2 separate regions of the Homo sapiens genome follow, and region 2 is linked to region 1. The links come from fine-mapping of genetic effects on plasma protein levels. A gene starts in region 1. The other region holds a variant in brackets. All regions are shown on one strand. Distances are between the middles of the regions. Region 1 holds the start of IL32 (interleukin 32). Region 2 holds the start of ZNF213 (zinc finger protein 213).

The links. PIP is the chance, under the fine-mapping model, that this variant and not a neighbour inherited with it causes the effect. The UK Biobank Pharma Proteomics Project read protein levels with antibody pairs (Olink). The fine-mapping took linkage between variants from a reference panel, not from the people measured, so its PIPs are less certain.
Region 2: its variant is fine-mapped to the plasma level of the IL32 protein (UK Biobank, PIP above 0.99).

Annotation. Positions count from the first base shown.
Region 1 is chr16:3,062,574-3,067,938 of GRCh38, reverse strand. IL32 (interleukin 32) reads right to left here and starts at 2,299. Exons shown (of 7, transcript NM_001376923.1): 1 at 2,252-2,299; 2 at 2,113-2,155; 3 at 524-562; 4 at 326-385. The coding sequence starts at 2,127. RefSeq lists enhancers at 1-157, 2,496-2,805.
Region 2 is chr16:3,134,797-3,140,161 of GRCh38, reverse strand. It overlaps ZNF213 (zinc finger protein 213), which reads right to left and starts at 5,133. Exons shown (of 6, transcript NM_004220.3): 1 at 4,775-5,133; 2 at 2,483-2,996; 3 at 1,621-1,744; 4 at 1,344-1,417; 5 at 1,064-1,187. The coding sequence starts at 2,881. ZNF213-AS1 (ZNF213 antisense RNA 1) reads left to right here and starts at 5,280. Exons shown (of 6, transcript NR_110900.1): 1 at 5,280-5,365. RefSeq lists enhancers at 1,198-1,698, 5,183-5,365 and a silencer at 4,843-5,072. The variant C/T (reference allele first, on the strand shown) is at 2,434.

The DNA of each region.
Region 1 (5,365 bases):
ACCCCACATCAGTCAGTCCTCAAGCCCAGTGAGTCCTCAGCTCCCACACACCCCGAACTGGGCCCAGCCAGGGGCCCGGGCCACGTCTGGCACCCCTGTTGTTTCCTCAAGGAGCCCTGGGGCTTGGATGCCTCCCTCAGTCTCCCCGGGCGTCCAGATCCCCCACCCGCCCACTCACTGCCACCCAGGTGCAAGCATTTGCCCACGGTAAGGGGTGAGGGAGCCTGTGGGTCCCTCTTCATCCTTCTCACCCTGAGCCCCACACAGGGTGGAGTGCCTGGGGGCGGGGACATGTGACCTGGTGCCTGAGGGGAAATCCACCCACCTGTCCACGTCCTGATTCTGCATTTTGCATTTTATCATAAAATCTTTCTATGGCCTGGTGCTGTGAAGAGAGGCAGAGTTGGCACCAAAGGGCCGGATCCTTGTCCCTCCAGGGTCCCAGGTGTCCCACAGTGTCCTCAGTGTCACACGCTGAGACCCAGGCCCCCAACCCCTGAGCAGAAGTAGGGAGGAGCATTACCATTCGGGCCTTCAGCTTCTTCATGTCATCAGAGAGGACCTGCGGAAATAACGGTGACACTCAGTCTCCATGTGTCACCTTAACCTTTCCTCCAGGATAATTTATACACACACACACACACACACACACACACACACACACACAGAGACACATGGCAGAGGTACAGGATAAGAGGAGACAGCAGTCCCAGGAGCCCCTCACAGCCTGGAAAGACCGGCCAGGGCTGTCCTCGAAACGACTCAGAAAGCGCTTCTCTCAGGAGCCGGCTCAGCTGGGCAGGCCCAAGAGCAGGGCCAGCATGGGCCTAGGTGACCCCTCCTCACAAGAGCAGGGCCTGCGTGGGCCTAGGTGACCCCTCCTCACAAGAGCAGGGCCTGCGTGGGCCTAGGTGACCCCTCCTCACAAGAGCAGGGCCTGCGTGGGCCTAGGTGACCCCTCCTCACAAGAGCAGGGCCTGCGTGGGCCTAGGTGACCCCTCCTCACAAGAGCAGGGCCTGCGTGGGCCGGGGTGTCCTCCCTGCACACACACACCCCCCCATGTACACACACGGGAGGATGGACACTGTCCTGGAGCAGGCTGGCTCAGCTGGGTTTCCCACAACCACTATGGTCCCAGGTGAGAGTTGGCCAAGGAAAAAATGTTTAGGGACATGACAATTGAGAAGGTAACAGCAGCCATTCCTCTCTGATGAGCTGATTAATATTTGGGGTGCCAGGTAGGTCCACCCTACAACCTGCCACTCTTCCCGACTGCCAACATGCAGACCCACAGGTCCCGGGCCATTCCTGCCTGCAGACACGTGGCTGCATCCACAGAGGCCAGAGGCACCCCACAGAATCCCCGCTGAGCCCCCACGTCAAGGGCCTAGTCTCGGGGGTGACATGCCTGGTTTCCCCCACTATAGAGTGGTGACAGTCACCCACAGAGTGCGCAGGGCCTGGGGACATATTCTGGGCAGGGCAGCTGTCTGCACACTTTCAGGCAGCGATGGTCCCATCCCGCTAGCCTGATTTCCCAGGAACCAGGGTGAAAGCAGCACCGTGCCGACATGCGGGAGCCATGTGTCCTCCGGGTCACTGTCCTGAACCTGAGCCAGGCCACATCATGGAAACCCCTATTGTCACAGGCCGAAGAGCTCCCTGGAGGGTGTGGTGGGCCTAGCATTTGCGGTGGGGCAGTGGTAGAGGATGGGAGGTCGGAGGGAACCCAGGAAAGGAGGAAGAGACACCAGGACCCACACAGGCCTTGCTCTTGGGCCCACCCAGCTGAGCCGGCCTCTGAGAGAAGCATTCTCCGAGTCGTTTCCAGCAGAGCCCTGCCCCACCCCTGCCCCGGGCTTTCCGGGCTGTGAAGGGCTCCTGGGACAGGTGCTCCCTCTCATCCACACCCCTGCCGTTCTCCAGCGCCCCCGACACATATGACCTCCAGCGCCTCCACTGACACTCTCACCCCATCACTATCCTCCTGCCGCTGGGTGCCCCTGACTGAGCCCTGACACACAGGCACCTCGGGAAATACTGAGGGCACCCGCACCCTTACGGTCTGTTTTCAGACATGCCCACAAAAGCACACGCAGCCTCTCACTCACCTTCGGGAAGCACATGGCGGCCAAAAGTTCAAGGAGCCAAGGCCTGCTGGCGAGGAACAGGTGTGAGGAAAAGAAAGTGTCTCAGAGAAGCACCCTCCTCCCCAGAGGGTCCTCACCTTCGGGGACCCCAACTCCCCACCTGAGATGACCCAGCTCCACTGAGACAGTCACCTTCTGCACGCAGTCTTCCTGGCACAAATACTCAGCTGGTTTTATGGGGAAAGTGGGGGGTAGTGGGCGGAGCCTCTCTCAGGGCAGGAGGCCTTGCTGAGTGCGTGAAAAACAGACAGAGACAGAGACAGAGACAGAGACAGACAGAGATGGAGACTTACCCGAGAGAGACAGAGGTCTGGGGTCCCTGGGAGGAATGAGGGTCCGTCCCTGGCTGGGCCCCTGCTCCCTCTGAGCTGGGGTGGGAGTCTCTGAGCCCAGGAATGGGCTGCTTTCCCCACCCCACCAGCCTGAGAGTGGGGAGGGGCAGAGGGAAAGTCCAGACTCGGGACAGCTGGCTGGGGAAACTCCCTGAGTACAGGAAGGTGACGTCAGCCAAGTGGGATCCAAGGACAAAGGAATTTGGACCCTGTCCTTGCATGAGGTGTGCCCCGGCTCCAGAGGCCAGAGAAACTTCTGGATCAGAAGGAGGCAGGAACTGCCGGACCTAAGAGGGGCGCCGTGAGGGCAGGGGCCTGTGCACGTTGGAGGGGTGGCTAGTGGTGATGTAGATCTACCTGTGGGACAAGATAGGACCCTCTGCAGGGTGGAAGGCATCCTGCCGGCTGTCTGAGCTTGGCTGACCAGGTCCTTCTGACCCTTCTGGGCCAAGGCAAGGCCATCTGGGGCCGAAGGTCACTGGTCTCAGCAATCTTGGGGCTCCCCTACGGGCTCTTCTAGCTCCACGGGTTCTGACCCTCCAGCCTGGCTGGGCCTCCCACCTCCTCCTCACGGCCCCCAGCCCCCTTCCCCCAGCTGAGCACAACCACGCCCTTGCCTTTGGGATGGTTTCCTGGGGCCAAACTAAGGAAGTACCACGACAAGGGGCCCTAAGTCGAAGACGTCTCTTCCCTCACGATCTGCAGGCTGGAGGTCCAAGGTCAATGTGGGCAGCGTGGGGTCCTTCTGAGGGCCCGGAGCTGGGATTCTGTTCAGGTTTCTCCTGCCCTTGTAGATGGCCATCTTCATCTTCATCACGTTCTGCCTGGGTGTGACTGTCCCCCTTTCCCCTTTCCAAAGGACACCAGTCATATTGAAATAGGGTCCACCCTAGGCCGGGCGCAGTGGGTCACGCCTGTAATCCCAACACTTTGGGAGGCCGAGGCGGGCAGATCACCTAAGGTCAGGAGTTCTAGACCAGCCTGGCCAACATGGTGAAACCTTGTCTCTACTAAAAATACAAAAATTAGCCTTGCGTGGTGGCCGGCACCTGTATTCCCAGCTACTCGGGAGGCTGAGGCAGGAGAATCACTTGAACCCGGGAGGCGAATGTTGCAGTGAGCTGAGATGGTGCCACTGCACTCCAGTCTGGGGGACAACAATGAAAATTCCCCTCGGAAAAAAAAAAAAAAGAAGTAGGATCCACCCCAGTGACCTCATTGTACCTTAAGTACCTCCATAAAGACCCTGTTTCCAAATAAGGGCATATTCTGAGGTCCTGGGGCTTAGGAATTCAGCATGGATGCAATGTATCCCATTATATTCTCAAAGGGGACTCGGAGAGACAGAACCTATAAAACACGCTCCATGGAGAAATCTTCCCTTGGGTGAAGTAGACAACGGTTGTCACCTGCCTGCCACTTAGGAGTCCATTCCACTGTGCGCAACCGCCTTTCCACATACAGGATGTCCAGATCTTTCCCTGAGTATCCTCTGAATTGTAGTGGGAGACAGAAGGAAGCCACTCCTGCACCAGCTAAAAGTCATGCTTTAGGCTTCAGCTCCAACCCTAGCCCCTCATGACTCTCAAAGGCCACCATCTGAAGACATCTTGGGATCCACCCAGACTGTATGTACCCTGTTTTTATAGCTTTATGGTGATGCAATTTACAGGCAATGCAATTCACTCATTGAGCTGTACAATTCAAAGCACAGAACTGTGCAGCTATCACCACAACCCATTTTAGAACATTTTTATCACCTCTAAGAGAAATTCTGCCCTTCTGAGACATCACTGCCAGTCCTCATTTCCCTGGATAACCACTCATCTACTTTTTCTTTTTCTTTTTTTTTCTTAGAGTCTCGCTCTGTTGTCTAGGCTGAAGGGCAGTGGCACGATCTCGGCTCACTGCAACCTCTGCCTCCTGGGTTCAAGCAATTCTCCTGACTCAGCCTCCCGAGTAGCTGGGATTACAGGCACGTGCCACCACACCCAGCTAATTTTTGTATTTTTAGTAGAGACGGGGTTTCACCATGTTGATGAAGGAGTCTCGAACTCCTGACCTCAAGTGATCTGCCCGCCTTGGCCTCCCAAAGTGCTGGGATTACAGGCATGAGCCACTGTGTCTGGCCTCATCTACTTTCTCTCTCAATGGATGCCTCTCTCCCAGACATTTCCTATAAGTAGAATTATACACTAGGTGATCTTCTGTGTCTAGCTTCTTTCACTGAACATGCTATTCTTGAGGTTCATCCGTGTTGTAACACGCATTATTCCTTCATTCCTTTTTCTGGCTGAATAATATTCTACTGTGTGGATAGACCACATTTGGTTTCTCCATTCACCCCTCGAAGGACATTTGGGTTCTTTCCACTTTTTGGCTAATTCCGAATAATGCTGCTATGAACATTCACGTACAAGTTTCTGTGCAGACGTATGTTTTCACTTCATATGTATGAAGCAGAAGAATAGCTGGGTTACATGGTAAATGTGTTTTTATCCTTTTGAGGAACAGCCAGACTATTTTTCAAAATGTCTGTCATTTTACATTCCCAGCAGCAGTGTGCGAGGGTTCCCGTGTCTCTACAACCTCAGCAATACTTGTTATTCTCTGTGTCTTTTCAATTCCAGCCATCCCAATGGGCTGAAATGGTATCACGTGACAATTTTTTTTTTTTTTTTTTTTGAGGTGGAGTCTTGTTCTGCCACTCAGCCTGGCCTAATTTCTGTATTTTTAGGAGAGATGGGATTTCACCATGTTGGCCAAGGAGTCTCGAACTCCTGACCTCAAGTGATCTGCCCGCCTTGGCCTCCCAAAATGCTGAGATTACTGGCATGAGCCACTGCGTCTGGGCTTATCTACTTTCTCTCTCAATGGATGCA
Region 2 (5,365 bases), 72 kb before region 1:
GGCCAGCCCCCTAAGCCATCTGTGCCCTGCAGGCCACACTGGGATCCAATGTCCCACTCTGAACCCCAGATATCAAGCTCCACAGCAGAACAGATTTATAGTAATTCTGAAACTTTTCAAGGGCCGGGCGCGGTGGCTCACGCCTGTAATCCCAGCACTTTGGGAGGCTGAGGCAGGCGGATCATGAAGTCAGGAGTTCGAGACCAGCCTGACCAACATGGTGAAAACTCGTCTCTATTAAAAATACAAAAAAATTAGCCGGGCATGGTGGCTCATGCCTGTAATCCCAGCTACTCAGGCTGAGGCAGGAGAATTGCTTGAACCCGGGAGGTGGAAGTTTCAGTGAGCTGAGATCACACCACTGCATTCCGGCCTGGCGACAGAGCAAGACTCCATCTCAAAAAAAAAAAAAAGAAAGAAAATTTTTCCCAACCGTCACAGTCGGAAACTGAGGAGCCAAACTGGTCTAGCTAGTGTGGCTCCCTTCACCACGCAGGCTCTAGTTCTCCAAACTCAACACAGATCTGGACAGAGGTCGCAGCCCATCCTCCTGGGAGTGTGACTGAACAAGATGATCCCTGATGGTGCTGAGAAGGGGCCTGGCATGGAGAGGAACCTGGTAAGTGCAGTTCTGACGAGCAGGGGCCCAGGCTGGTGAGCAGCTGGGGTTCCCCGTCAGCACCCCTGCTCCTAGCAGCCCAAGGTGGCCTCACAACTGTGCCTGATCCAAGTCCCAGCTGTGTCCCTTCAGCATCCACTGACCTGAGTCTCAGGTCCCTTATGCGTAAAATGGGGACAATACTTCCATGCACTAGGTTGTGAGACTCAAAGGAGAAGTTGCCCTTAGAGCAACTGCAGGGCTGGGCAGCGCCGGCGCCGTCCCATGCTGCATGTGGAAACGCACAAAAACTGATCATCAGCCAAGAAAGGAGTTACTCAGGCTCCTGGCAAGACCTAGGGAGAGCCTGCTTTGGAACCAGCTAAGGATGGGGTGGGAAACAAGACTGAAGTTCCAGCAGAATCGGGGGCGGCCAGCCTGGACCCAAAGGCCCTGGGTGCTTACCCAGGGTGGTGTTCCGGGAGTTCTCCCGCTTTATGTCCCAGAAGAGATCCCGCTGAGCAGGGTCCAGGGTGCCCCATTCTTCCCGGGAGAAATAGAATGGGATGTCTCCCAATGCCACAGGTCCCTGGAATGGGGTGAGAAGACCCGGCTCAGGCCTCCCAGCAGCACTGGCGGGGACAGGATGGGTCAGATGAAAGAGGCCTGATGGGACAGCAAGTCCCATTTTACAAACTCAACAGGGCCAAGTGCCTTAAAGAAGACAAAGGGACTGGTGACTCACATGGACCCCAGAGACAAAGCAGGTGTCCGTCGTCTCTCCGGGACGACCCTCTTTAAGAAGAGCAGGAGGCTGGGCTGAAGGAGAAGAATGGAGCCTTAGAAAGGCCAGCCCAGGCTTGACACCGACGCCTATGGCCTCCCCAGCCTGTGCGCATGCACACACGCCCTGGACTTCACAGAGGGAGCTGTCCTGCCTGTGACCCTTAGGGCAACGCCGGTGACAAAGCTAGGTCCCTGCCCAGCCACTCGACTGTCCACAAGAACGGAGGCTTACTCACCGCTATGGCTGTGCTGCTCCTGGGGAACAGACGGCCGCCTCCGTGCCCCCACCGTCGGGGGAGGCCCCGTGGCCTGGGATCCCCGGCCTGCAGCCTCGGGTTCCGCCTCCTCCGAGGGCACATCCTGTGCAGGAACCACAACATGCTCATCAGCCCGAGACCAGACCGGGGGAGACAGAGTTTACTCCCTGGGAAGGAGACACAGGACATGACCCTCAGGATGCTGGGGTGTGGGAAGGAGACCAATATGGTGCCCCAGGAAAAGTCCGGAGGAGAATGTGATACCAGGTAATGCTGTGTGCCCAAGGATGCTCCCCGATCATTCACGAGGCAAGAACCAGCCCTGAAAGGCCAGAATCACAGCCACTTAGCAAGGGGGTAGCTGGGGACCCTCCTGCCAAAGGCAGAACCCCATCCCCCAGCCACTCATTAGAACCTCCCCAGATGCATCCAATGTGAAGGACCCAACATCCCACAAGGTAGCAGAGGCCCCGGACAGCTCCACCTTCTCGCCCCACTCTGGAGCTGGCTCTATGCACACCCTTGTGTCCCCAGAGCCAGGCCTAGAGCAAAATGCAAATAAACATCAGCAGACCCTGCATGGAGCTAAAACCTCCTGTCTGGAACATTCGCACTTCAGCCCTATTGCTGCCTTCCAAAGCCACAAAAAATAAATCACATTTACTTTGGATCGCATCTTTCAGAAAGGCACCCATGGCACACTGTGCTTGTGTGCCTGCTCCTGGGGGCTCTGTGTCTCCCCTACCCTGTGAGCCTCTGGGAGACTTATCTCTGCAGGTTACCCACTTCTCT[C/T]GAGCTCAGATACCATCCAGGTGCCCCTGGATGTGGAAGGGCCCCTCACCTGTCGCCAGGCTTTCACTGGCTGCTTCTGTAGGTCCTCCACCAAGGCGACAGCCTCCTCACCGCTTCCCGGGTGCTGCTCACGCACCCAGCCCTGGATCTCCCCTGGCAGCACTGTCAGGAACTGCTCCAGCACCAGCAGCTCCAGGATCTGCTCCTTGGTACGCAGCTCGGGCCGCAGCCAGCGGCAGCAGAGCTCCCAGAGCTGGCTGAAGGCCTCATGAGGCCCATGCACATCCCCGTAGCAGAATTGCCGGAAGCGCTGGCGGCAGGCTTCGGAATCCCTGCCATCCTCATGCTGGGCAGATTCCTGTTCCCAGGAGGAATCTTCCACTTTCACAATCAGAAGCCCTTCTCCCTCCCCAGGGGCCTGGTCCTGGGCCTCCAAGGGGGCTGCCATTCCCCTGGCCTGAGGCTCAGGGTTGGTCGGCTTCAACCTGGGCCCCAGAACCTGTACTTTCAGTCTCCCAGAGGGATCCCCTGTGGTAGCTGGGCTGGCATCTGGATGTGTACTCCTGGGGAAAGAGCAAAATGGCAGGACTGAGGAGGAAGGATGTGGAATACACGAGCAAACCCCAGGCTGAAGAGCCATCCAGTCCCCATCCTTTCATGGCCCTGAAGCCTTTTCTAGGCTTTACTGTAATGCCTTGCTCATGTGACTGTCTCTCCTATTAACACAGGCCCACAAGCTCTCATCCCAAAGCCAGAAATCCAAAACCCGGGTGTTTCATAACTCTTTGACAGCAAAACCCAATGTCATTCATTTGGCAGCACCACCTGACCTGATATAAGCATATTTATAATCTCAATTTATTCCACTAAATGTAAATGTTCAAAATTATGGTGGAAATATTAATAACATATATCTTCAGTTTATAAAATTTCATTGAGCTATACCCACTCGTGTGTTTTTCTGTATTGCACATTATACATCAATTAAATATCTTTTTTTTTTTTTTTTACTGAGAGAGAGTCTCACTCTGTCGCCCAGGCTGGAGTGCAGTGGCGCAATCTCAGTTCACTGCAACCTCTGCCTGCCAGGTTCAAGCGATTCTCCTGCTTCAGCCTCCCAAGTAGCTGGGACTACAGGCACCAGCTACCACGTCCAGCTAATTTTTTGTATTTTTAGTAGAGACGAGGTTTCACCATGTTGGCCAGGATGGTCTCAAACTCCTGACCTTGTGATCCACCCGCCTCGGCCTCCTAAAGTGCTGGGATTACAGGCGTGAGCCACTGCGCCCGGCCTAATTAAAAAATTTTAACTGATATGTTTCATTATTTAGTGTTGCCCCAGATCCCTCTGGAGATGTGCTTGATATATCGTCTGTGCACTATATTATCTTTCTCAAATTTGAAAACCTCTGAATTCCAAAACACATCTGGCCCTGAGGTGTCACAGAAGGGCTTACAGACACCATCCAAAGCCATTTATCCACAGGTACATATAAATGTATGACACATTTATACCTTACATTGTTACTCTCTACTGAAAAGTGTATTATGCAATTTTCAGTAATCGATTTTTTGTTTCAACAATAAAAATACAAACTGGCCGGGCTTGGTGGCTTATGCCTGTAATCCCAGCATTTTGGGAGACAGACACAGGATGATTGCTTGAGGCCAGGGGTTCAAGACCCCTTTGGGAAGACAATGTGAGACGCCATCTGTACCAAAAAACAAAAAAAGCCAGGTGGGGCTCCTGTAGTCCCAGCTACTGGGGAGGCTGAGGAGGAAAGATTGCTTGAGTCCAGGAGTTTGAGGTTGCAATGAGCTATGATCGCACCACTGTACTCCAGCCTGGGCAACAGAGTGAGACCATCTCAAAAAAAAAAAAAAAAGAAAGAAAAGAAAAGTAAAAAGAAAATGAAAAAAATACAAACCATCTTAATAAAAAAGGGAAGATTCAAACAATATAGAAATCTGTAAAACTCTCCCTTCCTCAATACCATTGTACCCCCCGACTTAACAGTCTGACAAATGACGTCCCAGACCTTTTCCTGTGCTTTTACTAAAAAAGTCATCCATAGCGGGGAGAAAAGGTGCTTGATGTGTTTCTACATAAATGAGACCTTACTGCACAGACATTAGCGGCACTATGAGCTTCCGCGGTATGGATATGCTCTAGTTTCTTAATCAATACTCGAGTGATGCATTCGGGTTGTTTCCAATTCTTTAGTCCATCCTAAGCACTTTATTTATTCTGCTCCTCACAAGACCCCTGAAAGGTGCGCGCACCATTCTCATCCTCTGGTGACTTCGAAGAAGACTTTCCTCGAAGAGGGCCAGGACTCACCAGGGTCGCTCAGCAGGACACGGCAGGCGGGAAGGCGAGCCAGCCGGAGCCCCGCGCTGTCCACCGCAGCCTCGCCCGCGGGGCGAGCGGCGATCGTACAGGGGCGTCTGCCGGGGGACCAAGCTGGCAGAGCGGCGCGGGGGACCAGCACTTCCTAGCAGTGCGCGCGCCCTCCGGCCTCTGCCTCGGGGCGCTGATCCCGGCCACTCGGAGCCCGGTGCTTGATGTTGGAGCCAGGCGGCCAGAGGCCCCGTCCCCGCCCCGGCCCCCGCCCCCGCCCCCGCCCCCGAAACACACAACGCCCACTACGGCCCAGGAGATCCCACTTCCGCCGCGAGCTCCCGGCGCCGGAAGTCCTCGCGGGGCTCGCTGGGAAACTACGCTACGCAAGCATTCCCCAGCTCCCAGAAAGCCGTTCGTCCACTGAGCCCGCCTTCTCCATGACCGATGGCCAATGAACAGGAAGAATTCTCAGGCTGCCTATTAGAAGACAGAAACTCCATACGCGTCATACACCTGCACCCGGGAGGAAAGGCGAGGCTCTGCATCTAGATTTACCTCGTTCTCTTTTGTCTCCGCTTTTTTTTCACA